Homo sapiens: one gene and its partners. The protein of the gene in region 1 purifies or fractionates together with the protein of each later gene. This does not show direct contact. Each region holds a gene or a part of one and is shown in the gene's direction. Other genes may lie near its edges.

Region 1 (3,500 bases):
CTTGGCCTCCCAAAGTGCTGGGATTACAGGCGTGAGCCACCACACCCGGCCTAATTTTTAAATTTTTTGCAGAGATGAGGTCTCACTGTGTTGCCTGGACTGGTCTTAAACTCCAGCCTCAAGTGATCCTCCCATCTCGGCTTCCCAAAGTGCTGTGATTACAGGCGTGGGCCACCAAGCCTGGCCTAGTTTAATGAATTATTATAAAGAAAATGCCTTTCTACTCATGACCTATGTCAGGAACTAGAACCTTGCTGGCCACCAGAAGTCCTCCACCTCTCCCTCCTCTCTCACAGACCCCTCTCTCCTCCCTAAGAGGAAGCCCTTTGCCTAGTATTCCTTTTTTTATGGCACTTTTTATGGGCATACTGCCTTACTTTCCTTTATAGTTTTATCATCCAAGTGTGTGTCATTAAACACTACAGCATGGTTTTTTGCATTATTTTTTACTTTTATTTTTTATTTTTGGAGATGGAGTCTTACTGTCACCTGGGCTGGAGTATAGTGATGTGATCTCGGCTCACTGAAACTTTCACCTCCCAGGTTCAGGAGATTCTCATGCCTCAGTCGCCCGAGTAGCTGGGATTACAGGCACGTACCAACACACCCGGCTAATTTTTGTATTTTTAGTAGAGACAGGGTTTCACCATGTTGGCCAGGCTGGTCTTGAACTCCTGGCCTCAAGTGATCCACCCGCCTTGGCCTCCCAAAGTGCTGGGAGTATAGGCGTGAGCCACCGTGCCCGGCCAGTTGTTTGTTTTTGAAGTATTATTATGGCCCCTTAGATTTGAACATTCTTGATTGGTTTCAGTTAATTGCAGTTATCCTTGCTGAAGCTCAAATCCTGCACTCTTTGGCTTGACTCCAGAGTCTTACGAGCTTCCTCTCTATCTGGAATGATGAGATGTTCTAGGTTCCTCTTGAAGGTTCTGTGCCCCAGACCTGGAATCAGCCATTTCTCCAGGAAGTCCTAGTTTCTTGTGTTGGAAGTGGAACTGGTATTTGTGTGCACTAGGAATGCTCATTGTACTGGGATGACTGTTGTTTCTAGGTCTTTTCTGGGGGCAGAGCTGGGAAATATATTGATCTTTTTAAAGATAAGATACCTCATGAGTTTATACTGATACTTCTAATTAAAATTCAGAACCAAGGGTGTTTACTTCTTCAATATAAGTGTTTTAACTTAAAATACAAGGTTAGTACACAATTTTTTACAAAATTTAAATTAAAACAAACAACTAGACTTAACTCCTAGTTCTAACTCACAGTTCTCAGCCTTTTTCTGTGATCAGCAGACATGAGGTTTCACACACTCTCCCTTTTGTATCAGAGGCTGGTTCTGTTGGGAACTTTGACCCTACCTGTATCAGATTATGTCACGGGACATACGTAGTTTGAAAAATCCTCTTAGGTAATTCCAATGTCCTCCTTCTCTTCCTACCCTACCCCGTTGAGCTCTTGCTGTCATCCCTGGGGTCCCCCTGGTGGCAGCAGACGTCATAGCCTGGGGCCTTTCCTGGCCTGTCCGGACCTGCCCGGGCCCTGGTTTTCCTCACCCTGAAGTGAGCTGGGGGATGTGGTGGGGCAGGGTGAGCACAGGTCATGTGCTTCTTCAGCTGATTGGTGGCCGTGTGTGTTACAGAGCAGTACACAGTGACCGGGCTGATGGAAGCGACCCAGATGATGGTGGACATCGATGGGGACGTCCTTGTGTTCCTGGAACTGGCTCAGGTATCATGGCAGGGGAGGGAATCTACAACAGTCTCAGTTCTACACTCTGCCTGCCCATTGGCTGCGAATGGGAAGGGGTGGAAGATGGTCTATGCGGGAGAACCTGTCATCGGACTGGGCTCTTTGACTGCGCGTAGCCCATCTCCTCCTCCATGCCAGGAAGCAGCTGGGGAACTCCCTGGTGTACCCGGAGGGGAGCTGACCAAGTGGGGAAGGGATGAGGCTTTAGGCAGCAGTAGGGCTGGGGAGGGAACCCCAGGCTCAGGCTTACACATGGTTGCTGCCTGCCTGAGGTCATTTAAGGGGCACTGAGGACTTTCCATCTGAAATTAACCGCCTACTCCCTTAATCCCAAACAAACAAGCCAAATCTCCCACAGTGGCCTTCACAGTGCCAGAAATTCAGCCACCAAAGATTAGTGTGTGGAGTGGAAGCACGGCTCAGGCAGGGCTTGCAGACACCCCTGGGAAGGCAGCTCCCTTAGCTCATTGTCAGTGCCTCCGTGCAGGCTGCCTTGATCCCAGATGTGGAGGAGAGAGAAGTCAGGTAGGTTGAGATCTGAGGAGGGCAGATGCAGTATGAAGCCACTACATAGGGCTCTGGTGTCTGCAGCGAGGATGCCAGGAGTGGGCAGAACAGAGGTGAGATGATGGTGGTGCTGGCGGTGGTGCCAAGGAGCCTGAGGCAGCATCATCATCCTCAGTTTTGTGTGGCCTTGCCTCTGGCGCAGGCTCTCTAGAACTGCAGGGCCTCTGCGTGCCCTGCACCAGAGCTTCAGCTCTGAAGGCAGCTGGAGGTGTCTATGCAGACCCTCTCCCCTGGGGATTTCAGTACAGACGTTCTTCCCTTCTGTCCCCAGTTCCACTGTGCGTACCAGCTGGCCGACTGGTGTCTCCACCACATCTGCACCAACTACAACAACGTGTGCCGCAAGTTCCCCCGAGACATGAAGGCCATGTCCCCAGGTGAGCATCGGGGCCAGTCCTGGCAGTACCTGCTGCCCTCCCCTTAGGGGTGCACAGCTCCCATGTAATCCCAGGGACCCCGAGGCTGCCAGTAATCCTTGACCTTGGGGCTGGGAGCAGCCTGCAAAGGAGCCTCCAGCCAAGCCAAGGGGCCCCAGGAAAAGTGCTGGCCTGGAGGGCAACTCACCCTGCCTCTCTGGGCTTCTCATTCTCAGAGGTATGAAGAGGATACTGGACTAAAGTTGGTAGATTTCAGACTTTTCTGGACAGAATACCGTAAGAAATACATTTCATCTTGTGACCCAGGACACATATAGGAAAATATATACATCTTTCTAATGCTGCTCATGGCCCACTAAATTGATGGTACAACCCAGGAATGGGTACAGGCCACAGCTTGGACCACCCAGGTCTGGGCATCCTCTGAGGCCTCCTGTCTCTTCTTGATTAATTTCTTAGGCCCTAGAACTCAACAGAAACTGCACAGGCTCCAGGGAGAGGTGTCCCTGGCCTCCCTGAAGGGTCTGCCACTCTTTCCATGGGGTCCTCTCTGGGCTCCCTCCAGTCTGCCGTGACCCTCCTCCCTGCTGCCGTGTTTTTGCCTCATGCTGCCAAGTCTCCACCCCGATCTCTCCTTTTCACTACTACAACACTTTTAAAAAAAAATTATTTATTTATTTATTTTTTTGAGACAGTCTTGCTCTGTTGCCCAGGCTGGAGTACAGTGGCACAATCTCGGCTCACTGCAACCTCCACCTCCTGGGTTCAAGTGATTCTCATGCCTCAGCCTCCCGGGTAGCTGGG
Region 2 (3,500 bases), on another chromosome or scaffold:
GGCGTCCTGGCAGTGCCGCCACCACCAAGCCCATCGTCCGCTCTGTCTCCGTGGTCACAGGCAGCGAGCAGAAGAGGAAGGTGCTGGTGAGTACTGTGGCCTAGGAGTCCGGGCCCCTGCCTCCTGGAGGGCTGTTGTTCAGTTGGCATCTGACCCCTGGGTCCAGCTCCACAGGTGAACAAGTGCCTCACATCTGGACATGCTGGATCCTCGTGGCTGTTCCAGGAGGCAGGTAGGACTTGAGTCTTACAGGCGTGGGTGCTGAATCACTAGAAAGTCAAGCCAGAGCTTGGATTCTTTCAGCAACAGCCCCAGGCCTCCTGTGCCACCGCCCTTTGGATTTGTTTGAATCCTCAGGAAATGGGGTTGGCTGGGCTCGGTGGCTCACGCCTGTAATCTCAGCACTTTGGGAGGCCGAGGCAGGCGGGTCATCTGAGGTCAGCAGTTCAAGACCAGCCTGACCAACATGGTGAAACTCCGTCTCTACTAAAGATACAAAAAAAAATTAGCCGGGCATGGTGGTGCATGCCTGTAATCCTAGCTACTCGGGAGGCTGAGGCAGGAGATTTGCTCGAACCCAGGAGGCAGAGGTTGCGGTGAGCCGAGATCGTGCCGTTGCACTCCAGCCTGGCGACAGAGTGAGATGCCATCTCAAAAAAAAAAAAAAAAGAAAGAAATGGGGTTGACCTGTGGGGAGGGGTGATGAGCTCCTGGTGGCCTTGGAGAAACCTAGACGGGTGTGTGGGTGTGTGGGCAGCAGGACAGCCGTGGGAGCTTCGGGGTGAGAGCTGCCTTTCCTGCCCACCTCTGGGAGTAGGGAGGAGGGTGGGTGGTTCCCAGATGGGGGCTGTGAAAGGCAGGCCGGGCCTGCTGCACCCTGAGTTGGTGTCTGCCAGGCCCAGTCTTTGGGGCAAGGGAGGAATCGAGCCGCTCTGTGGGGGTTGGGGCAGAGCCTGACCAGAGTCTGGCCTGAGCTTCCGAATAGCAAGGGCCTGGGGGCCTTGGCTTCCATGCGGCAGCCGGTCTGGGGCTCCCTGCCTGAGGTCCGTGCCAGGCAACATAGCAGGGCAGAGAGAAGGGGTCTGGAGGGCAGTTGAGGCTTCCCACAGGAACCCCTGGCAGGCCCAGGCCAGGGTTCCACTGTGAATAAAAGGCTTGGACCTCCCCCTTCTCCTTGAAAAAGTTATTCCTGTGTCTGCCCTAGAAGCACCCCCAGGTGGGCAGGGTGTGGCCCGCCAGACGGCTAGCCGAGTTCCGGGGTAAGGGCAGCCGGGCCAGTAGCGGACCCTTGGACCAAGCAGGTTCCCAAAGCCTGGGCCAGCAGGGCGGGGACCCGGGATGTCCTGATGTGTCATTGTGGCCGGCAGGTTGTCTAAAGATGTGGTACGCCTCTAGGCATTTACAGACGTAAGCTGTGAAAATAAAAATATGCTGCACTGTTTTAGCAGAGGGGTAACCAGCTTGGGCTAGAGCCGTCTCTGAGCCTGCTGCCTCTCCTGTCCGCAGCCCTGCTCCTGCGTCACTGACCCCCTCGCCCACCTGCCTTGGCCCCTCCCGCTGTTTCTAAAGCCCTAGGTTCATGGCACATGGGGCGGGGAAGACGCACTCGAAATCGCAGATCTGGGCTGGGCGAGGTGGCTCACGCCCGTGATCCCAGCACTTTGGGAGGTTGAGGCGGGTGGATCACCTGAGGTCAGGAGTTCAATACCAGCCTGGCCAACATAGTGAAACCCTGCCTCTACTGAAAATGCAAAAATTAGCCGGGCGTGGTGGCGCGCACCCTTAATCCCAGCTACTCAGGAGGCTGAGACAGGAGAGTTGCTTGAACCCGGGCGGAGGAGGCTGCAGTGAGCCGAGATCATGCCACTGTACTCCAGCCTGGGCGAAAGAGCAAGACTCTGTCTCAAAAAAAGAAAGAAAGAAAGAAAGAGGGAGGGGGAGGGGGAGGGAGAGGGAGAGGGAGAAGGAGAAAGAAAGAAATTGCAGCTCTCTTGTTGTGTGGAGACTGTTGTAAAAGTTTCCGGGCTTTCTAGTAGATGGTCTTTCGGCGGCATGGCCAGGCTCTATCCGCGGCCGACCCAGGCACCTAACCACACTCCCAGCCTTTCTGCTGGGAAATGTTCTGTTGCTGAGTAGAGGTTCAAAGCCACAGCGAGCGCTACTCATATCGATCCCTCCTTTCCTCGGCTGGTACCATTGCCCGCTCCCGCAGTGTTGAGTGGCGACTGCTAACAGTCCCCTCGTTCATGGAATGTTCCAGCTGTTCACTTCAATTCTTTGAGGCCCTCGCTCGATCCGAGACGGCCCCACCCCTGCATGCCTGTCTGCCTTCTGTTGTGCCCATGGTGGGAGCTCGGGAACTGCTGGTGGAAGAGGAACCCCCGCCAGTGTGTGACGTGACCTCAGGGGTTTCTGTTGTGCCCGGTCCCCATCCTCTCGGCCACCTGCCCTGCTACCACTCAGTCTCATCGGGATTCCTGGAGAGCATTTGTTTTGGCCAGGCATGGCTTCACACCTGTACAAGGCGGCACGTGATTCTCTTCCTCCTGGTGTTTGTGGGTGGGGTGGGGTGCTGTCCCCTGGCTCGGAGACCTTCTCGGTGGCCATTGGCCTGGGGTTTCCACTCTACCCCTTGTCTCTAAAGATCTTCCTGCGTCCACGGCCTGCTGTCCCGGGATTCCCCATCCAGGATGTAACTGCAGTTCCTGCTGGTCTTCTGGCTCAAGAGATGTCGGTGCCAGACTGTAGAGGGTCCCTCTTCCTTGCCCCAGCTGTGTGCCCACCTGATCCTCTAGCCCCCTAGATCATTATTCACTCTGGTTCCCTTCCCCTTAAAGAAAAGAGGTCTTTAAATCCCAAGAGCACAAGCTCACTGGGGAACAGACATCACTGTGCATATGTGTCATGGCCATGGGGGCCACCTGCCCCTCCCTGGGCGATGTTGCCTCCTTCTTGCAGGTGGAGTTTAGGGTTTTTAGTCCATGACTTGATTTACCATCTGAGCATGAGTGGTGCCTTTCCACCGTGGTGTCCGTCAGTGAGTGGCAGCCCCTTCATCCCTCCCCTGACATCCCTTATCTTCCTCTTGGAGGCTGCGAAACTGACCCCAGGAAAATGGAGACAGGATGAAGGGCACCCATAATCCCATGGCCCTGATGCAATGACTGGTGCCATTTTGGGGGATGATTTCAAAATTCCTACCATGTGTTTTGAATAGGCCATTCACACCCACCATTTGGGAAAAGGGGGCTCATTGAGCAGTGAGCCTGTCCTGCCCGACCTTGCGGGCCTCTCCTAGGCGGCCACTGTTCTGTTTCTCCTGCACCCACACTTACTCTGGGCACACAGGCATCAGTGATGCTGGAGATGTGTTGGAACAAGTGCCGTATCCGTCAGCTGCGTGGGGCTCCTGCATTCTCTTTTCTTTTTCTTTTTAAGACGGGGTCTTGCTCTGTTGCCCAGGCTGGAGTGCAGTGGAGAAACCACAGCTTACTGCAGCC
Region 3 (3,500 bases), on another chromosome or scaffold:
AAGGCAGCTCTCTGGGCCCCTTTTTTTTTTAAAAAGGATGCCAATTCCATTCACCTCCTAAAGGCTCCACATCCTAATACTGTCACATTGGTTATTAAGTTTTAACATACACATTTTAGGGGGACACAAACATTTATATCCTGCTAGAAGTTAAGATGATTTTCTGTTCCTTTGAGGGTCTTGAGGAGTAAGAAGCCAATCAAGTCAAGGGGCTCTAGACCCAGCAAATAGATTTTTTGTTTTGTTTTGTTTTGAGAGAGGGTCTCACTCCATCACCCAGGCTGGAGTGCAGTGGCACGATCTCGCACTGTAACCTTTGCTTCTCAGGTTCAAGTGATTCTTGTGCCTCTTGAGTAGCTGGGATTACAGGCGTGTGCCACCACGCCTGGCTAATTTTTATTTATTTATTTATTTGTTTATTTATTTATGTATTTATTTTTAATAGAGACAGCATTTCACCTTGTTGGCCAGGCTGGTCTTGAACTCCTGGCCTCAAGTAATCCACCTGCCTCGGCCCTCCCTAAGTGCTGGGATTACAGGTGAGAAGCACCATGGCCAGCCAGATTTTCTTTTTTGCTGCGGGGTGGTTTGGAGGGGGAAATATTTTATTGGTATTCCATACCTTTCTTTTTTTCCTCCAAACATCTATAGAATTACACTTAACACATCATTAATAATAAATATTTCCAAAAAGAGCAGGTAAGCTCACAGAGATTAAGTATGTGTAAAATACATACTGTTTCGATAAAGATTAATTATGTATTGTTATTTTAGAGAAAAGGTGGATAATACCTACTTTCCAATGTATTTTTAGCGTGACACATTTCAAACATAAAAGTATAGAGAATACAGCAGTGAATACCTATATAGCTACAATCCAGTTAAATCAAAATTAGTATTTTGTTTTTCTTCATTAAGAGATAAAACATGACACATATATTTGAAGCTCCTTGGTTCCCTGCTCCTTCCCATTCCCCATCTTTCTTTTCAGAAATAACCATTTATCTTAACCTGATTTAAATCAATAGTAGTTTGTTTCTGTCTTTAGCAAAGGACTTTTTGCCATTCGTAAATTACTTAATTAGCTAATTAATCTGTCATTTTATTATTTTTTTCTTAAGCATTTGTGTTTGTTAATTATACTTCTTTTACAAGTGTATATGTCATGAACTTAGAAAACAAAAGTGAATTACTGATTAACACATGTTTAGTGAGTATTTAGTCTTTTTGTTTTATACCTTGCCCAGTACCATTTCCCTCTACAGGGCGGAGGTTCATTTGTTTAAATAATGCAAAGATGTGACCTATTTGCTTCCCATATATTGTTTACTGTGTATTAGTACTAAATTATATAAGTAACCTACAAAGTCAGCCTTTTATTCTTCATTTAGGGTGTTAAGTAAAAGATTAAAAATGCACTGATGAAGCATGGGTTGAAACTTCTCAATATAGTCTGAGGCACCTTAGCAACAATTATTATGAAATTGTCATCAAAGCGTGTCTTCATGCTTATAGTCATTCTTCACACATATTGAGTACCCACTATGTGCTAGTTCTACTACTAAATTCTAGGTAATTAACTGTAAAGCAGACATGGGTTCTCTCCTTGTATTTGCCAGTCACTAGAAACTAGTGACAATACTGTGGAACTATAAGGCATGAAATGATTGGCTTATTTACTTGCTTACAGTAGGTAGGCCTTAATTCTATTAACTCTTTGTGTCACTTAACAGCTTTAACTGTGGAGAAAATTGGCATGATCCTGTTAAATGTAAGGTGAGTTTGTCTGACATTTCAATTTTTAAATAATGGCACACTTCTAAGACTTAGTGACTAAAAATCATAGCTGATGATTTTGTTATCTATCTATTGATAGATTTTTTTTTATCCTTTTAATTTCAGATGATCATTACATGTATTCAGAGGTAATTCCTTAGGATAAGCCAAGTCAGCTCCTGATTGTTATTAGGATAACCATGGCTAAGGCACCTCTTTGTCAGGCTTTGTAATTAGGGGAATACACACCTTGCAGTTGGGCTTCTCTTCAAGCTCTAGGTTCCCCACTCAGCTTCTGCCAAAGAAAATCCTGCTTTGGTTGATTTTATATATACTGGACATTGTAGCTATGGGATTTCCCTGGCTTAAGAGGATGTGAGCCTAGTGATAATCTTATTCATTGGCTTTTACATTTAAGCTTGACTATAGTTAAGTGCTAAAGTAATTTGCTATTTTTAAAAGTCTTTTGTTGTATCCTAACCGTTGTTATTTTCAAACAGTGGTTAAAGAAATGGATTAAAAAGTGTGATGATGACAGTGAAACCTCCAATTGGATTGCAGCCAACACAAAGGTTGGTGTTTTCCTTCAGTAACTCTTGGTAATAAAAATGATAAGGATTGGTACTTTGGCATTAGCAAAAGCAATGAGGTGACCTACTTACAGGCTTTGTTTCATCTTTTTCTCCATTGAGTCTTTTTTTTTTTTTCCCAGAATGTTTGCCTGTTATTTCCTTTTTCTCTTTGAGTTTATTTTAGAGTATTGAGTACTGTAGTACAGCATCCACAGTTCTCTGCCTTAGGTTTCTTCTACTGGAAAAAAAATTAGTGTTCTGTAGAGGAAAAAGCTGATAATTTTTCAAGTGTGGGATTTGTGCTTGGCTGCCATTTAGTATACAAATGCATTGGAGTTTACTCCGCCTAGCTTGGTTCTGTTAGGCTAATTTACATTTTTGTTTCTAATTTTTTGTTTTGAAGTACATTGCTCTTGATACTAGTTTCAAAATTCAATTTCAAAATTCACTTTCTTAACCCCAGACAAATGTCTTAGAAGTGTTTAAATCTTGAGTACCCTTCTCCTCGATCACTAATCTAATGAGCAAGCATTTGAATGCCAACCGTGTACCCAGCTAGTCTTTTAATACAAAGTCGTATTATCCATCCTTTATGTAATTCAGTCCTATCCTATCCCCATAGTGAGTGACTTGGGTAATGAATGGTAGGTTGGTTCATGGGCTATTCATTTTTAGTATTATTTTGTACATGTAAAGATGATGCTTTAAAGAATGCTGAGTTGTTTGACCCATAGTATATAAAGCTATCTTTGAACTGTTGCCTCAGTCATCACAGGACAATGAGATTAAGAAGTGTGTAAACAATGAAGGCCGACGCAGGTTGTCTGTGTGTGTTTAAATATACATCTTACATACTTATATATAAAACATGAATTTATATTTCTGTCTCCCAGAAAGTAGTGAAACAGTGAATCTTGCCACATAAAACAAATGCCCAAGTCTTTAAGGAATATATGGTAGAAATTAATATTTTTTGTTCCCTCCAAAACCATCACGATAAGCATAACTCACGTCAATCAAAGAAAACCTTACTATAAATATACTGTAATGTCAGAAAGTGGTTACTTGTTTTGTTATTAAAAAAAAATTCTTAGCCAAGCATTCTTTTTTTGAAAATTGAAGATTTTCCCACAAGAAATGTTCCTTAAGTCC
Region 4 (3,500 bases), on another chromosome or scaffold:
TTATTAGGTTTTAGCTTACCTAGATTGAATTCTGACACCGATTAAAAGGGTAAAAAATTAAAATGGTTTTCTTAAGTTTCTAATTGTGAAAGTATAGAGGCCATTATGATACATTGATTTAATAATTTTTACTTACTCATTTCAGGAATATGTCAAGATAAGGGGGTGGTATTTTGTCATTGAATCTAGGAAGAGTTTGTTAATGGATTTTTAGAGGACAAGCTTTCACCTGTTTGGTAACTCTGAGAGAATAGACCAAGTCATAGTATTTATCTATTGTTTTAATATTAGAAGCAACCTTTGCTGGTTCTCTCCAGCAGTAGAGGAAGATCTTTGTCTTTTTTTTTTGGTTCAATGAGACTCATCCTTTTACTATAGAGAACAAGTTATTGACTTAATAGTCATAGGTTTTTTTGTTTTATTTTAGGTATGATGCATTGTGTATTCTCCTTCGTCACAGCAAGAATGTACGTTTTTGGTTTGCTCATAACGTCCTTTTTAATGTTTCAAATCGCTTCTCCGAATACCTTCTGGAGTGCCCTAGTGCAGAAGTGAGGGGTGCGTTTGCAAAACTTATAGTCTTTATTGCACATTTTTCCTTGCAAGATGGGCCATGTCCTTCACCTTTTGCCTCTCCTGGACCTTCTAGTCAGGTAATTGCACAGCTTTCTTTCTAAATGATGAGATGTTTACAAATAAATTGTGTTTCCTGGAAGTCGAAGTCACAAGCATATGTGCATCCACTTGATATGTTTACCTAACAGAAACACACAATATGATGTCAGTGAGTTCCATTTAATATTACTGCATGGCAATGAATAGTAATTATTGGCTCTTTAAAAATGTAAGAGAATTTTCTCTGTTCGGTTACATGCAGTAGCTTAATTATAAGTTTACTGTTAAGTAGATTTTTTCCTATTTTGAAGGTTTTTTAAATAGTCTTAGATTTTTTTAAAAAATTACAAGTGTAAAAAATTATAATGAAATCCGCCTCTGATCTTCATTCCCTTTCCCAAGAAGCAAAATAGTTTAGTTTGTGTGATCAGTCCTTCCATAAATGTATGCCTGTATCAGCATATGTGCATGTCCTTTTTATGCAAGTAGAAGTATACATATACCTTGTTGCTGTAAAACAGGTAATGTTTTATCCTTTACAGGCTTATGACAACTTAAGCTTGAGTGATCACTTACTAAGAGCAGTACTAAATCTCTTGAGAAGGGAAGTTTCAGAGCATGGGCGTCATTTACAGCAGTATTTCAACCTGTTTGTAATGTATGCCAATTTAGGTAAGAATTTAAGTTTTTCAGAATTCTGTTTTGATGTATCATATTAAATTGTGAAGTCATTTAGGTCAAGTGATGAAATATAATCTGATCTGAAGTAGAAACAATTTCCCATAAAACCTGTTGTGAATTTTATCTGAACATGGCACTTTCACCTTTTACTTTGTTTATGCATGTGTCTTTGTGGTAGACACAGGTCAGAATCTGTGTTTTGATTTTTTTTTTTTTTTAATCTCCTAATGCAGTGGTGCCAAATCTGGCTGCTTTTGGAAAATACTGGTTTCTAGGCCTCTTCTCACACTGATTGAATCAGCATCCCCAAAGCTAATGTCAGGGAATCCATGTTTTCAAAGGGGTCCCCAAATGGTTGTGATACTCACCAAATTTAGATAGCAGACTTGGTCTGTACATAAGTTTTTGTTTAAGTAAACTACAATTATGGATAATATAAATACTCGCTTAAAATATTAATTTAGGGGCCGGGCACAATGGCTTATGCCTGTACTCCCAGCACTTTGGGAGGCCAAGGCAAGAGGATTGCTTGAGCCCAGGAGACTAACCTAGGCACCATAGGGAGACCCTATCTCTACAAAATAAAATTTTAAAATTAGCTGGATGTAGTGGCATATGCCTGTAGTCCTAGCTACTTGGGAGGCTGAGGTGGGAGAATCACTTGAGCTAAGGAGGTTGAGGCTGCAGTGACCCGTGATTGCACCACTGCACTCCAGCCTGGGCAACAGAATGAGACCCTGTCTCCAAAAAGCAAACAAACCAAAAAGTCATATATCCAAAATGAAGTTCTATATCCAGGCGTACCTGTCGTTTCAGGTTTTTTTTCTGTGATCTTACTTAATCACCATTGGATCCATGGCCCTTTTAACATAAGGGAGATTGTACTTTTCATTTGTCTATTTAGTTTGTCTTCTTTTCCCTTGTCTTTTCCGTAATTGCAGATATTTGGGTATTTGTAGATGAGAAAGAGAATATTTATTACACAGACAAGCATAAGTGGAATCTGTATTTCAAACTTAAAAATGCCAAATTTAGACATTCAGAAGAATCCTATTCTGTTCAACTCTTTTAGATATTGCCTGTTCACAAAGCACACATCATTGTTCCATAATGTAACCTACTTGTAAAATTTTCCTGCTGAAAACAAATACTGTAGGGCCTGTAAACCTTAATATGAAGTCCTTAAGATCAGATATGCATTGGGATTGAGAATTGTTTGGATTTAAGAAAAGCAAGGCAGTGCATATACCAACATCTCTATAGCAGGGTCTGAGACAACAACTTACAATTGAACACATTAATATTTCTACAGTAAAATATGAATATTTATACTGAAGGGAGAAATAAAGACTATAAGTAGCCTTTAGTCAGTTTGGGCTAGGTTATCCCACCAACCACATTTTGACAGCAACTTAATGAAAAACTTTGTTGGGCTGGGCGAGGTGGCTCATGCCTGTAATCCCAGCACTTTGGGAGGCCGAGGCAGGCGGATCACCTGAGGTATGGAGTTCAAGACCAGCCTGGCAAACATGGCGAAACCCCATCTCTACTTAAAAATACAAAAATTAGCAGGGCGTGGTGGCGGGCATCTGTAGTCCCAGCTATTCGGGAGGCTGAGGCTTGAATCTGGGAGGCAGAGGTTGCAATGAGCCAAGATCGCGCCACTGCACTCCAGCCTGGGCAACAGGGCAAGACTCCGTCTCAAAAAAAAAAAAAAAACTTGTTATAATAATAGCTTTTGGGCCAGGCGCGGTGGCTCACGTCTGTAATCCCAGCACTTTGGGAGGCCGAGGCAGGCAGATCACAAGGTCAGGAGTTCAAGACCAGCCTGACCAACATGGTGAAACCCCGTCTCTACTAAATATACAAAAATTAGCCGGGCGTGGTGGCACATGCGTGTAATCCCAGCTACTCAGGAGGCTGAGGCAGAAGAATCGCTTGAACCCAGAAGGCGGAGGTTGCAGTGAGCTGAGATCACACCACTGCACTCCAGCCTGGGAGACAAAGCGAGACTCCATCTTAAAAAAAATTAAAAATTAAAATAGCTTTTGGAATCTTAGGATTTCAGATAAGAGGTTGTGGACCTGTTTTTATTATGTTTTTGGGAATATGGCAATAAATAAGATTGTCTAATGGGATATAGAAGCAAATAATGTAGTTGCCATAAAATATGTTAATAGCTATAATAGGGAAAATGCAAAGTG
Region 5 (3,500 bases), on another chromosome or scaffold:
CTTTCAATTTCAGGTCCTCTAAGGAAGGGAATATGCGAGAGACTTTGGGATTTAGCACTGTGAAATGCTTTCTCTTGGCTTAAGGAGCTGTTGCTTTCTCTCCCCTGTTACGAATTGTGTTCCATATCTGAGTTCCCTTTTTGCCTGGCCTGCAGGGGAGCTCCCGTGTATCTGAAAATGCTTTAGGCACAGCAGTGGCTTTGACCCATGTGGTTAGTGCGTTGATCTCTCTCCTCCCTCTGGGCCTTACTTGTTTCAGTGTTCACATGGTTGGTAGTTTATTAAAGCCTTTGTGGAGGGCTGGGCTCAGTGGCTCATGCCTGTAATCCCAGCACTTTGGGAGGCCAAGGCAGGCGGATCATGAGGTCAGGAGATCGAGACCATCCTGGCTAACATGGTGAAACCCCGTCTCTACTAAAAAATACAAGAAATTAGCCGAGCGTGGTGGCGGGCGCCTGTAGTCCCAGCTACTCGGGAGGCTGAGGCAGGAGAATGGCGTGAACCCGGGAGGCGGAGCTTGCAGTGAGCCGAGATCTCGCCACTGCACTCCAGCCTGAGTGAAAGACTCTGTCTCAGATTAAAAAAAAAAAAGCCTTTGTGGTAGTTGCCTCTGGTCCTTTCTTTGAACAAGGCAGAGGAACCAACTGAGATTACAGCAGGCAGTGGGCAGAGCAGCAAAGGCTGGTGGGACACAGGCTCATGGGAAGGTGAAGAGCCTAGGCTGACTGGAACCCCGTGGGCTGAGGAGTGGGGGAGATTTGATTGGGAAAGGAGAGCAAGGGCAGAGGAGGAGTTTAGACTTCATTCTGGGGGTCACAAAGTTATCACTGAGGTGATAGCCCTCCTGAGGTGGGATACTACGAAGGGCCCTTCTCCCAGTGCTCCTGACATAAGCTAAAATTTTAGATTATAGGCTCAAAAACAGAGCAGCCCTGGGACTTCACCACCTTAGCAGCCCCTCCTGCCCAAGCTGCCACCTGAGCAGCAGGGGACACCGACTAAGAAGCCTTTGGTGTGTGAGTGCAGTTGAGCAAACATGCGCCCGCCTTGTGCTGGCCACCCACCCGGAGACCCCGGTCCTCATCCTGCGTTGCTCACAGCGGAGGGGGGAGGTGCCTCCGGAAACAGGAACTTAGGATGTGGTGTCATCGTGGTGGAAGCCAGGAGCACCCTGTGGGGACCCAGAGGAGGAAATGACCTGAACAAGCCTCTTGTTCAGAGGTCCTTCCCCAGGAAGCAGTGGCCACGCTGCAGCTGGAAACCAGAGGGCCTGGCCCCCGGGTGGGGAGCAGGCATTTGGGAGGGAGGCCAGTCTCCCATGCTGAGGCTTGGAGGTGGGAACGGGTGTGCCTGTTCTGGGAACTGACTGCGTCGTGCTGAGGACTTGATGTCTACATCTCACAGTATGTGGGAGCCTTGGGGTGGGGGCCGGCAGGGGGTGGTGTTGGAGAGGTGACGGCTAGGTCAGGCAGGGGTGGGGGACGTAGGCCAAGTGCGGGCGCTGCCCACCCAAAACAACGTGTGCAGTGGGCAGGTGAAGCCAGTAGGCGATGGTGGGGCCGGGGGTGAGCGGGTGGCACACGCCTGTCTTAAGGGGGCTGCGGCGAGGCCCCGGTGATGGCTGCTCCGGGCTTGCAGGTGATGTCGCCAGGGCTCTGTCACCTCAAGAGAAACTGGGACCCTCATCTCAGTATGAAAGTTCCTGGTTTTTAAGTGGTGGTAACTAATGAACATGGTTTAAAAATATCATACCAGCAAAACAAAAGCCATCTGTGGGTCATATTTAGCCAGTGCTTGCTGTGGCTCATGGGAACCCCTGAGGGATTTTAAGCTCAGGAAAATCATGGTCTGATCCGCATTTTGGAAAGGTCCTTTCAGGGCCTATGGAGAGCAAATAAGGCAGGTAGCAGTGAGGAAGGCTGGACCATGATGCCACGGTCCAGGCAGCAACATTGGGAGCATGGTGGCCCCGGCACTAGGGTAGGAGGTCCAAGAAGTTATCTGCAAAACAAGGAGCACTTCTGGAGGGCCCTAGGCACCTGCTTAGATATGGGGATGAGCAAGTGAGTGAGTGAGCCTGGTGCCCAGAGGCCTGGCAGGTCAGAGATGAGGTGGCTGAGGGCCCTGAGGGAAGAGAGGGGCTGTGTGACAGGGTTTGACGGGGCAGAGGTACCACCTCTGAAACCCTTCCTGCCAGATTGCGAAAGAAGCATGGGGGCTGTAAGAAGGCCAGAAGGGGCCGGGCGCGGTGGCTCACGCCTGTAATCCCAGCACTTTGGGAGGCCGAGGCGGGCGGATCACGAGGTCAGGAGATCGAGACCATCCCGGCTAAAACGGTGAAACCCTGTCTCTACTAAAAATACAAAAAATTAGCCGGGCGTAGTGGCGGGCGCCTGTAGTCCCAGCTACTTGGGAGGCTGAGGCAGGAGAATGGCGTGAACCCGGGAGGCGGAGCTTGCAGTGAGCCGAGATCCCGCCACTGCACTCCAGCCTGGGCGACAGAGCGAGACTCCGTCTCAAAAAAAAAAAAAAAAAAAAAAGAAGGCCAGAAGGCCGGGCACTGGTGGCTCATGACTGTAATCCATCCCAACACTTTGGGAGGCCAAGGCAGGAGGATCCCTTCAGCCCAGAAGTTTGAGACCAGCCTGGGCAACATAGGGAGACCCCATCTCTACCAAAAAATTAAAATTAGCCGGGCATGGTGGTGCACACCTGTAGTCCCAGCTACTCGGGAGGCTGAGGTGGGAGGATTGCTTGAGCCCAGGAGGCAGAGGCTGCAGTGAGCCGTGATTGTACCACTGCTCCCCAGCCTGGGTGGTAGGGCGAGAACCTGTCTTAAAAACAAAATCAATAAATAAAATACAGTAAAAAAGAAGGCCAAAAGCCCCTGTGGGGGGTAGGTGCACCAGACACTGTCCCTTTGGTTTCTAGGGTGACCATCGGGATGAGGAGGAAGAGACCCACATGAAGAAGTCAGAGTCGGAGGTGGAGGTGAGAGCTGGGGGCACCAGCCAGGTGAGGCAGACAGGGCTATCTCAGCTTGCCTGGCCCAGCCCCAACCTTTTCCTCGTGCCCTCAGGAGGCAGCAGCTATTATTGCCCAGCGGCCTGACAACCCAAGGGAGTTCTTCAAGCAGCAGGAAAGAGTCGCATCGGCCTCTGCGGGCAGCTGTGATGTACCCTCGCCCTTCAACCATCGACCAGGTAGTCCTAGGCCCCACCCCCCGTCCGGCCCCACTCCTCAGGTTGCGGCCCTGAGCCTCTCTGGGACTCTCTCAGAAGGGAGGCCTTGCCCAAGCAACCCTTGGAGAAGGCGAGACCCTTCATCCAGCGTGCATCCGCCCACCACTTCCCAGGTGGCAGGACCCCAAGAAGGGCCAGGGATGGTGGTGAAGTCGCTTGTGGCTGAACAGTGGGGAGTGCTAGGGCCTGTGGGGCAGCTCTGGCATGGGCTGAGGCACAGCGCTGGCCACGGGGAGCAGCTCGGCTGGGGTGAATTAG
Region 6 (3,500 bases), on another chromosome or scaffold:
ACAAAAGTAGAAACTTTTCATCCTAGAAAATGTATGAAATAGAAAAGAACAATATGAAAATGAAAACTTACCTGAATTAACTCCATCTATAGTTAAGTCTCTTTTTTGATGTAAATATCTTTAAAACTCTTTAGTTTTGAGCGTGTGTGACTCTGTGTGTGTGTGTTCCAAATAATATAACACAAACTGGCAGCACCAAGCTATATTTAATGATATTCAGTGTTTAATATTTAATGATTGAAGCTGTGCGTTTACACACACAGATGTGCACACACATAACCAGCATAGGGCTGTTGTTATTAATTGAAGGACCTTTATTAAATGTAATATTTCCATGTGTTGTTTTTTTTCTCCCCCAGCTATGGGAGGTTTATGGAGAACGGCGCTGTCTGAGAACATTTATTGGTAATGCTTCTTTTCTCTCCAACATAAATCTGGGAAGAATTTTTAAAGTAAGATAACATCATTGACAATAACTTTACTACACCGATAGGAAGTAAACTCTTCATAGATTTCAGCTGAATCTGGAAGGAGGAGTCAGTGTCCCCAGTTAGACAAAGAAAGAGAACTAGGAAGCAAGAGCAGCGGATGCAAAACAAAAATGGTGTGAGACAGCGTGCTGCTGAGGGGATCCACGTACATTTCAGGATTGTCAGAGTATGGGGGATGGTGAGAGACAAAAGCGGAGAAAAGTAGCAAGAGAGGGACCAGAGTATGGAAGACCTCCTGTGCCATTAATAAAGAGTTTAGCCTCTGTTGTGAGGGCATTGGGGAACCATTAAAGAGCTCTTGCCGGAAAGCAACATGATTTGAAGTTTACAAAGATCAAATGGCAATATGCAGGATGATTTGGTAGGGCAAGCCTGGAGGAAGGGAAATTAATTACACAGTTATTTCATAGGTCTGGTTTAGAGATGATGAGCGCCTGAACCAAAGCAGCAGAGAGAGAAAAGAAAGGAACTACGTATTAGAGTTAAAGTCAGTGAGATTTAGTAACGGCATGTGAATGATCACAGTGAGACAGGAATCTAGAGTGACTCCCATGAGGCTGGATGAACGATGGTGCCATTCACCAAGAAGGAACATAAGATGATGGTAAGGTTTTAGATACACCAAATTTGAGCTGCCTTTGGGATATTGAGGTAAAAATGTTCAGTAAGCAATTAGATAGCCAGAGGTCGAGCTTTGAAGAGAGACTGGGAATTGACAGCTAAAGCATAAAAAAAGGATGAGATTGAGAGAACTCCTTGAAGAAAGAAAGAAGGCCAAAGGGAGGACAGCTTTGTGACAAACCAGATTTTTGGTAGAGAAAGGTTTATTGTCTTTGTCAGATTTCATGTGAAGGCTAGTTACTCATTCCAAATTTAACTGTACCACGTTGAAACGGTGTGACTCGTAGTGGCTCTGTTTTTAGATTAAAGTGGGAGTCTGTTCAGCAGTGCTTTATGATTTTAAGGCCTCCCTGCACAAATTAATACTGCCTAAGATGTCACCGCAGCCTAAAGGAAGACTTGTGGAAGGCTCTCAGCTGTGTACAGGGGAACAAAATGTCTCCATCAGATAGAGTGGATTTGGTCCGCATCTGTCTCCCCTCTACTGGCAGACCATTTTTCTGTGGAAAACTGAAATTTTCCTCCTGAAGGAGATGATAGAAGCTCTGACTGGGACTCCAGCTGTAGAAAAGGATGCCTAATTACCATGACACGTACCTCCTGATGGGAGTTCACTGGAGGTGATGGTTTAGAGCTGCTGCATGTGGTTAACAATTTGTGCCATGCTCATTTTGCACAATTGTACGTGTCTTGGTCATGGTGGGGTGGCAAAAATAGGAACATTTTTGCTTTTGTTTAGCCACATTTTATTTTTCCCTGTAACTTTTAAAAGAGTTGAGTGAACTGGCAATATTCATTTTTAAGTAAAGTATAATAATCAGCACCTTAAAATTAGTGTATTATCAAAATATCATCTTAAAGCAAAAGAAGGTAGCCTGGGCAACATGGCAAAACCCTGTCTCTACAGAAAATACAGAAATTAGCCAGGCGTTGTGGTGTGCACCTGTAATCCCAGCTACTCGAAAAGCTGAGGTGGGTGGATCGCTTGAGCCAGGAAGGTTGAGCTTACAGTGAGCTGAGATCCAGCCACTGCACTTCAGGCTGGGCAACAGAGCAAGACCCTATCTCAAAATAAAAATAAAAAACCATGCAAGCTAATATAGTTTTCAGAAAGTCTCCTACATTCTGAATCAGTTTCTATGAAATTTGGTAATGTGATCACAGAAATATACAATTATTGAACAAGGGCTACAGTTTCCTGAACTTTAGGTTTGGGGCACTTTGTTTTCACTTGCAGCCTGGTGGACATTCTGAGAGTGAACCTCCAAAATTCCAGCAGCCATTTCTTTCACTGGCAATAATTGGTCTTTTACATTTCCATAAATTCTTGGCTAGCTAGTCATCACTTGTATGTACTGCATATTAAGTAATTGCTATGGCAGACTTAAAAGAAAAGTTAAACCTTTTCCTCTTGGTTCTTAACCAAGATGTTATGCATCAGAATCACCTGAGGAGCTTCTTCAAGGGGAAAAAAACGCCCACATTCTGAAGCCCACACATAACATATTCTAAGTCAGTAAATCAGGCGGTGGCATTCCAGTGATCTTGACTCACAGCTGAGAACCACTGCTTAGTGCTGTTTGTCTTTATGGTGTTAATGTTTTAAGAGAAGAAGATATATGATACTTCACCTCATTGCTGTTTCTGTTGACTCCACCTTTAGGTCACAGTAAGGCTGTTAGGGATATCTGCTTCAATACTGCAGGAACACAGTTCCTCAGTGCAGCCTATGACAGGTATCTTAAGCTCTGGGACACTGAGACAGGTAAGAGTTCACTTATGCTAATACACATTCATCTTACAAGTTATTTATATTTGAAATGGTGTGAGTAGTCTTTTGTGGCAAAATGGCACCTTCTCTAACTGCTGATTCTCATACCATTCACTGTCAGCAAATATCACAAAATACATTTGTAAGTCGAAACTGAGCATGAGTAGCTCTTTCACTGTGAAACTTGTTTCCACCAGATAGATTTTATAAAGCAAACGTACTGACAAATAAGCAAAGTGGAAATCTTGTATAGGCCATCTAATTGATTTTTTTGTTCCCCTACATCACCTAGCACTGTGCATTGCACATAACAGAAGTGCAATAAATGTCTAATGAACAAAATTAAATGTATTTGCGCAAATTGATTAAAATGTAGGTCTCAACTTTCACAGGCCAGTTGGTTTTATATATTCACAGCCATACTAATTGCTGTTTATTAATTGATTCACATTAATATGTTGTGGCTAGTATAATTTTATGTAATTATAAAAATTATCTTACTATCTTATTGTCTTACTGTCATTACCCTTACTGCATCTGAAGGGTAATGATAATAGTTAATGTTTATTAAACATCATTTAACAGGCATAATTGCTAAGCACTGATATTCAGTGTCT
Region 7 (3,500 bases), on another chromosome or scaffold:
CTTAATTGCCATTGGCCTCACAGTCACTCTCCCCCTTGTCATGGGTGCCTGACTGGAGCTACCCACACCTGCATAAACCTCTGAAGAGCAGGATGGACCTGGCACATTCATGGGTTTATCTGGAGACTGCACAACTATGAGTTGGTTTTCAAAAGGGTGTTTTGAAAACCACCACACATTGCTGGATGTCATAAGGCTTCATGGCTTAGTCAGAATTCTTTCATAGCTGTGGCTGCAGCTTGGGGAACTATAGTTAGAAGTGCAGGAAGAACATGGGGAGGGATAAAGTACAGAATCTCTGCAAGACAACCCCATTGGTGGGGAGACAGACTTGAGGCCGCTTTATTGGACAGGAGCCTGACTCAGAATGAGAAGTGAAGATGTTCTTCTGCCAGCAGGGTGGCACTGGAGGAGCTGTGATATTTCAGACCTTTCTTGGGATGAGTTGACTACAGTGCTTCACATCGAATGGCTTGCAGTTCAGTCAAGTTGGAGAGGCATGTGCTGGGATATATATACTATGGGAACATGGAGCAGTGAGCAATTCCAGGCTGTGGTCATGTCCACAAAGCCTCCATGGCAGAGGGAGGCTGTGAGTGTCAGTTCAGCAAGTTGACAAGAGGACAAAGGGCATTCCAGGCAGGAGAACTGCGTGTTCAGAGACATCCTTAACACAGTGTGACAGGCTCAAGAAGTCAGGGGTGGCCTGAGGCATGTGAGCCAGGGCTGGGGTGACAGGAAGCAGTGCCACCAAAAGTAGCTGAAGTATGCTGTTTGTGGCTAGCTCAGAAGCTCAGGCTGACAGGGAATCATCAGAGTAGGCAGAGCTGCTTCTGGTGTCCATGGATGAAGACTGGTGCGGTTGAGAATAGGTCAGAAGTAAAGAGGCTGAACCAACGCAGGGAGGGTGATGAGAAGAGGCCTGAGAGGTTCTGCAGGCGGTTCAGCAGAGCTTGGCTAATGCTTGGGTGCTGTGGGGTGGACAGAGAAGTCTGGGCCAGGTTCACTGCTGTTTGGCTAGTTTGGTGCATGACATTGCCACTGATGAGGCTGAGAGACCCAGAGGAGTTCAAGGCACCCATGGGACTTGTAAGTGGGCCCTTGCCATCAGCAGTCAGAACAGAGCTCTGAGGCTCAGCGGCCAGGTGTTGCACTGGCATAGAGACCTGGGAGTCACTGGCATGTTGATGTAAAGACTCAGCTAGAGTCAGAGGAGGGAAAGACAAGGAGCACCACTTTTAAGGAGTCAGCGTGTCTAGGACCTGCCAGGTCTCTGAGTGCTAACGGATCCTTTCTGGAGGAGACCACTGTCCAGTTCCCACATAGGCAGCCCCAGACATGCCCAGCAGGTCAGCTGGGAAACAAAGCTGAAGTCTGTGCTCTAGTAGGAAAAGGGCTGAGCTGCTGTTAATCATCACTGACCACAGGCCTCCCCTGCTGAAAGGGGGAGACATTCCGATTTAAAAGCTCAGTCCAAAGGCATCAGGTTGTTGGTCTGTGAAACACATTTGTAGTAAAGCAAAAGACTGCTAGGAAACCCAATGACAGCCTTGCCTGAAAACACAGGCACACATACATATACACATATCATTTCCTGCTCAGAGTGAGCACAGGCACCTTTTTGCAAGGAATGTTTTAAAATGGAGTTCATTGCAGCAAGGAAGGGATCCAACTAATTGTTTTGGAAAAACCCAGACCCTTCTGGGTCTCTCTAGCCCTCAGTGAGCAGTTAAGACTGGGTGCTCCTTGACAGGGCGCTCATGACAGAGGCCTTTACTCTTCTAACATCACTCCAGAGCCAGGGCCTCTGCCATCTTACCTCTGTTGGGCCTGTCTACACAGTAGCCCCAGAGTGCCCAGAATTCTGTTTTCTGTCCTCACAGCCATCTCTGTGGCTCATCCCAGATGATTTGAGATGCACCTGGGATTAGAGAGGTGTTAAGTGTGGACCGTGGCATGTCCTGACAATGTCCCTAGTATAGGTTGAGCATCAGAGTAACAGGGACTCCTATCCCTGTGGCCTCCAGTGGTCACAGCATTGACTGCTGGTGCTGGAAGGCCCCAAACACCATGGAGTGTGACGTCAGTTTATCAGTACATGGGAGACCTGCCCAGTTGGTTCAGTGAGCAAACATGTTCATAGGGAAGACTTTAGGGGGCCCCAGAACAGGCCAAGGCCCCTCATATCCCCTCTCCCAGCACCCTGCACTGGCCCTTTGAAGCATGCATTACGTTTATCTTTTAAATGACTAGGGGGTTATTTATTGTCTTTTTCCCCACCAGTTCCACAGGGACCACATCTGCCCAGCATAATACCTGAAGTGAATGCATAAATGAACAGGATGCTCCAAGTAAACATTCGAGACCTTGGATGGTGCTACAGTAGGAATACAGTTAGGGGCACCCCTCCACCCACCTGCAGTCTGATGGGAGAATGGGCACACGTGCATCAATGCTGTGGTGTGCAGCACATGGGGCCCTGAGGATGAAACAGCCAGATCTCAACATTTGGGAGGGCTGGCAGAAGGCAGAGGCAAGTGTGAGAGATAATGGAGGTCCCAGCCAAAGGGAACAGCTACTGCCCAGGCAGGGAGAAAAGAAGTGGAAGGGTATTTGGGGGGAACCTTGTGTGGCTCCCTGTTTGCTAGTTTAGACCACAGGTGGCCCAAGGCAAAGCTGGACATGTGTGCCAGGCCTAGATTTCTAGGGCATTACATGGCAGGCCAAGAGTCCTGGTTCTATCATGAGAATTGTGGCAGCCACAGAAAGCTTTCAGGCCAGGGCCGGGGCATGTTCAGGTGGGTGTGTACCCAGATTGCCCCACCCATGGGGTAGAGGGTGGATTAGAGGAGAGGGGGCTCTGGTAGGGAGACCTTTTCAGGAGACATTTGTGACCACTTGATTAAAATAGTGATGACCAGGATCCCATCACTGGAGGTGGAGAGAAAGAGCCCCACAAGAGGTGTAGAGGAGGGTTTTCCTCTGGACTGGGTGACTGGATGGGGATTGGGAGCAAGGAAGGAAAAAACACCTCTCTCTCTCTTCTCTAAAGATTGGCCCATCTGGTGGACTAGAAGTGCTCAGAGGGCCTCTTACTGCAACCTGACTATACACTGTACTGACTCCTGTAAGCTGTTCTTGCCTCTCACAGATAAAGAATCTAAAATAGAGACACTGCTTTCATCAGAGAATCTAGGTATCTGCCTTTACATCATCTTTTTAGGGGAGGGTGTCATAGCTGTTTTTCTTTTATGAAGCCTTTGGTAAGTTTATCAGCCCCAGTCTCAAGTGTATGAAAATGCAATTATTAAACAAGTGTATAGAATGTGGCCAAGAAATCCCATTTCCTTTTTCATCATGTGGCATAATGGCAAGGCACTTAAGTAAAATTGATGTCATGGTATAAATTGTGCAAAGCCAAGCCTTTCTTTTCAGGGATCAAACTGCTCCAGCGGAGTGCATCACCTGGACCCGGAGGGCCCTGCAGCTACAGACAGTGG

The links.
Region 2: the proteins of RHOBTB2 (region 1) and CEP131 purify together in Homo sapiens (affinity purification with mass spectrometry, with the first as the bait; one large-scale study listed by BioGRID). This does not show direct contact.
Region 3: the proteins of RHOBTB2 (region 1) and ARIH1 purify together in Homo sapiens (affinity purification with mass spectrometry; 2 studies listed by BioGRID and IntAct, with this or other methods). This does not show direct contact.
Region 4: the proteins of RHOBTB2 (region 1) and USP9X purify together in Homo sapiens (affinity purification with mass spectrometry, with the first as the bait; one large-scale study listed by BioGRID). This does not show direct contact.
Region 5: the proteins of RHOBTB2 (region 1) and DBN1 purify together in Homo sapiens (affinity purification with mass spectrometry, with the first as the bait; one large-scale study listed by BioGRID). This does not show direct contact.
Region 6: the proteins of RHOBTB2 (region 1) and CDC40 purify together in Homo sapiens (affinity purification with mass spectrometry, with the first as the bait; one large-scale study listed by BioGRID). This does not show direct contact.
Region 7: the proteins of RHOBTB2 (region 1) and MACROH2A1 purify together in Homo sapiens (affinity purification with mass spectrometry, with the first as the bait; one large-scale study listed by BioGRID). This does not show direct contact.

The regions. Positions count from the first base shown.
Region 1 is NC_000008.11:23,013,048-23,016,547, forward strand, and holds part of RHOBTB2 (rho-related BTB domain-containing protein 2), read left to right. Parts: intron 1-1,642; coding exon 1,643-1,731; intron 1,732-2,590; coding exon 2,591-2,696; intron 2,697-3,500. UniProt on the Homo sapiens protein: Regulator of cell proliferation and apoptosis. It likely functions as a substrate-adapter that recruits key substrates, e.g. MSI2, to CUL3-based ubiquitin ligase complexes for degradation. Required for MSI2 ubiquitination and degradation.
Region 2 is NC_000017.11:81,216,466-81,219,965, reverse strand, and holds part of CEP131 (centrosomal protein of 131 kDa), read left to right. Parts: coding exon 1-86; intron 87-3,500. UniProt on the Homo sapiens protein: Component of centriolar satellites contributing to the building of a complex and dynamic network required to regulate cilia/flagellum formation.
Region 3 is NC_000015.10:72,564,830-72,568,329, forward strand, and holds part of ARIH1 (E3 ubiquitin-protein ligase ARIH1), read left to right. Parts: intron 1-1,733; coding exon 1,734-1,776; intron 1,777-2,276; coding exon 2,277-2,348; intron 2,349-3,500. UniProt on the Homo sapiens protein: E3 ubiquitin-protein ligase, which catalyzes ubiquitination of target proteins together with ubiquitin-conjugating enzyme E2 UBE2L3.
Region 4 is NC_000023.11:41,217,945-41,221,444, forward strand, and holds part of USP9X (ubiquitin carboxyl-terminal hydrolase 9X), read left to right. Parts: intron 1-427; coding exon 428-653; intron 654-1,157; coding exon 1,158-1,287; intron 1,288-3,500.
Region 5 is NC_000005.10:177,460,135-177,463,634, reverse strand, and holds part of DBN1 (drebrin), read left to right. Parts: intron 1-1,208; exon of another isoform or gene 1,209-1,403; intron 1,404-2,931; coding exon 2,932-2,991; intron 2,992-3,079; coding exon 3,080-3,203; intron 3,204-3,500. UniProt on the Homo sapiens protein: Actin cytoskeleton-organizing protein that plays a role in the formation of cell projections. Required for actin polymerization at immunological synapses (IS) and for the recruitment of the chemokine receptor CXCR4 to IS.
Region 6 is NC_000006.12:110,214,927-110,218,426, forward strand, and holds part of CDC40 (pre-mRNA-processing factor 17), read left to right. Parts: intron 1-359; coding exon 360-405; intron 406-2,775; coding exon 2,776-2,877; intron 2,878-3,500. UniProt on the Homo sapiens protein: Required for pre-mRNA splicing as component of the activated spliceosome. Plays an important role in embryonic brain development; this function does not require proline isomerization.
Region 7 is NC_000005.10:135,389,232-135,392,731, reverse strand, and holds part of MACROH2A1 (core histone macro-H2A.1), read left to right. Parts: intron 1-3,500. UniProt on the Homo sapiens protein: Variant histone H2A which replaces conventional H2A in a subset of nucleosomes where it represses transcription. Nucleosomes wrap and compact DNA into chromatin, limiting DNA accessibility to the cellular machineries which require DNA as a template.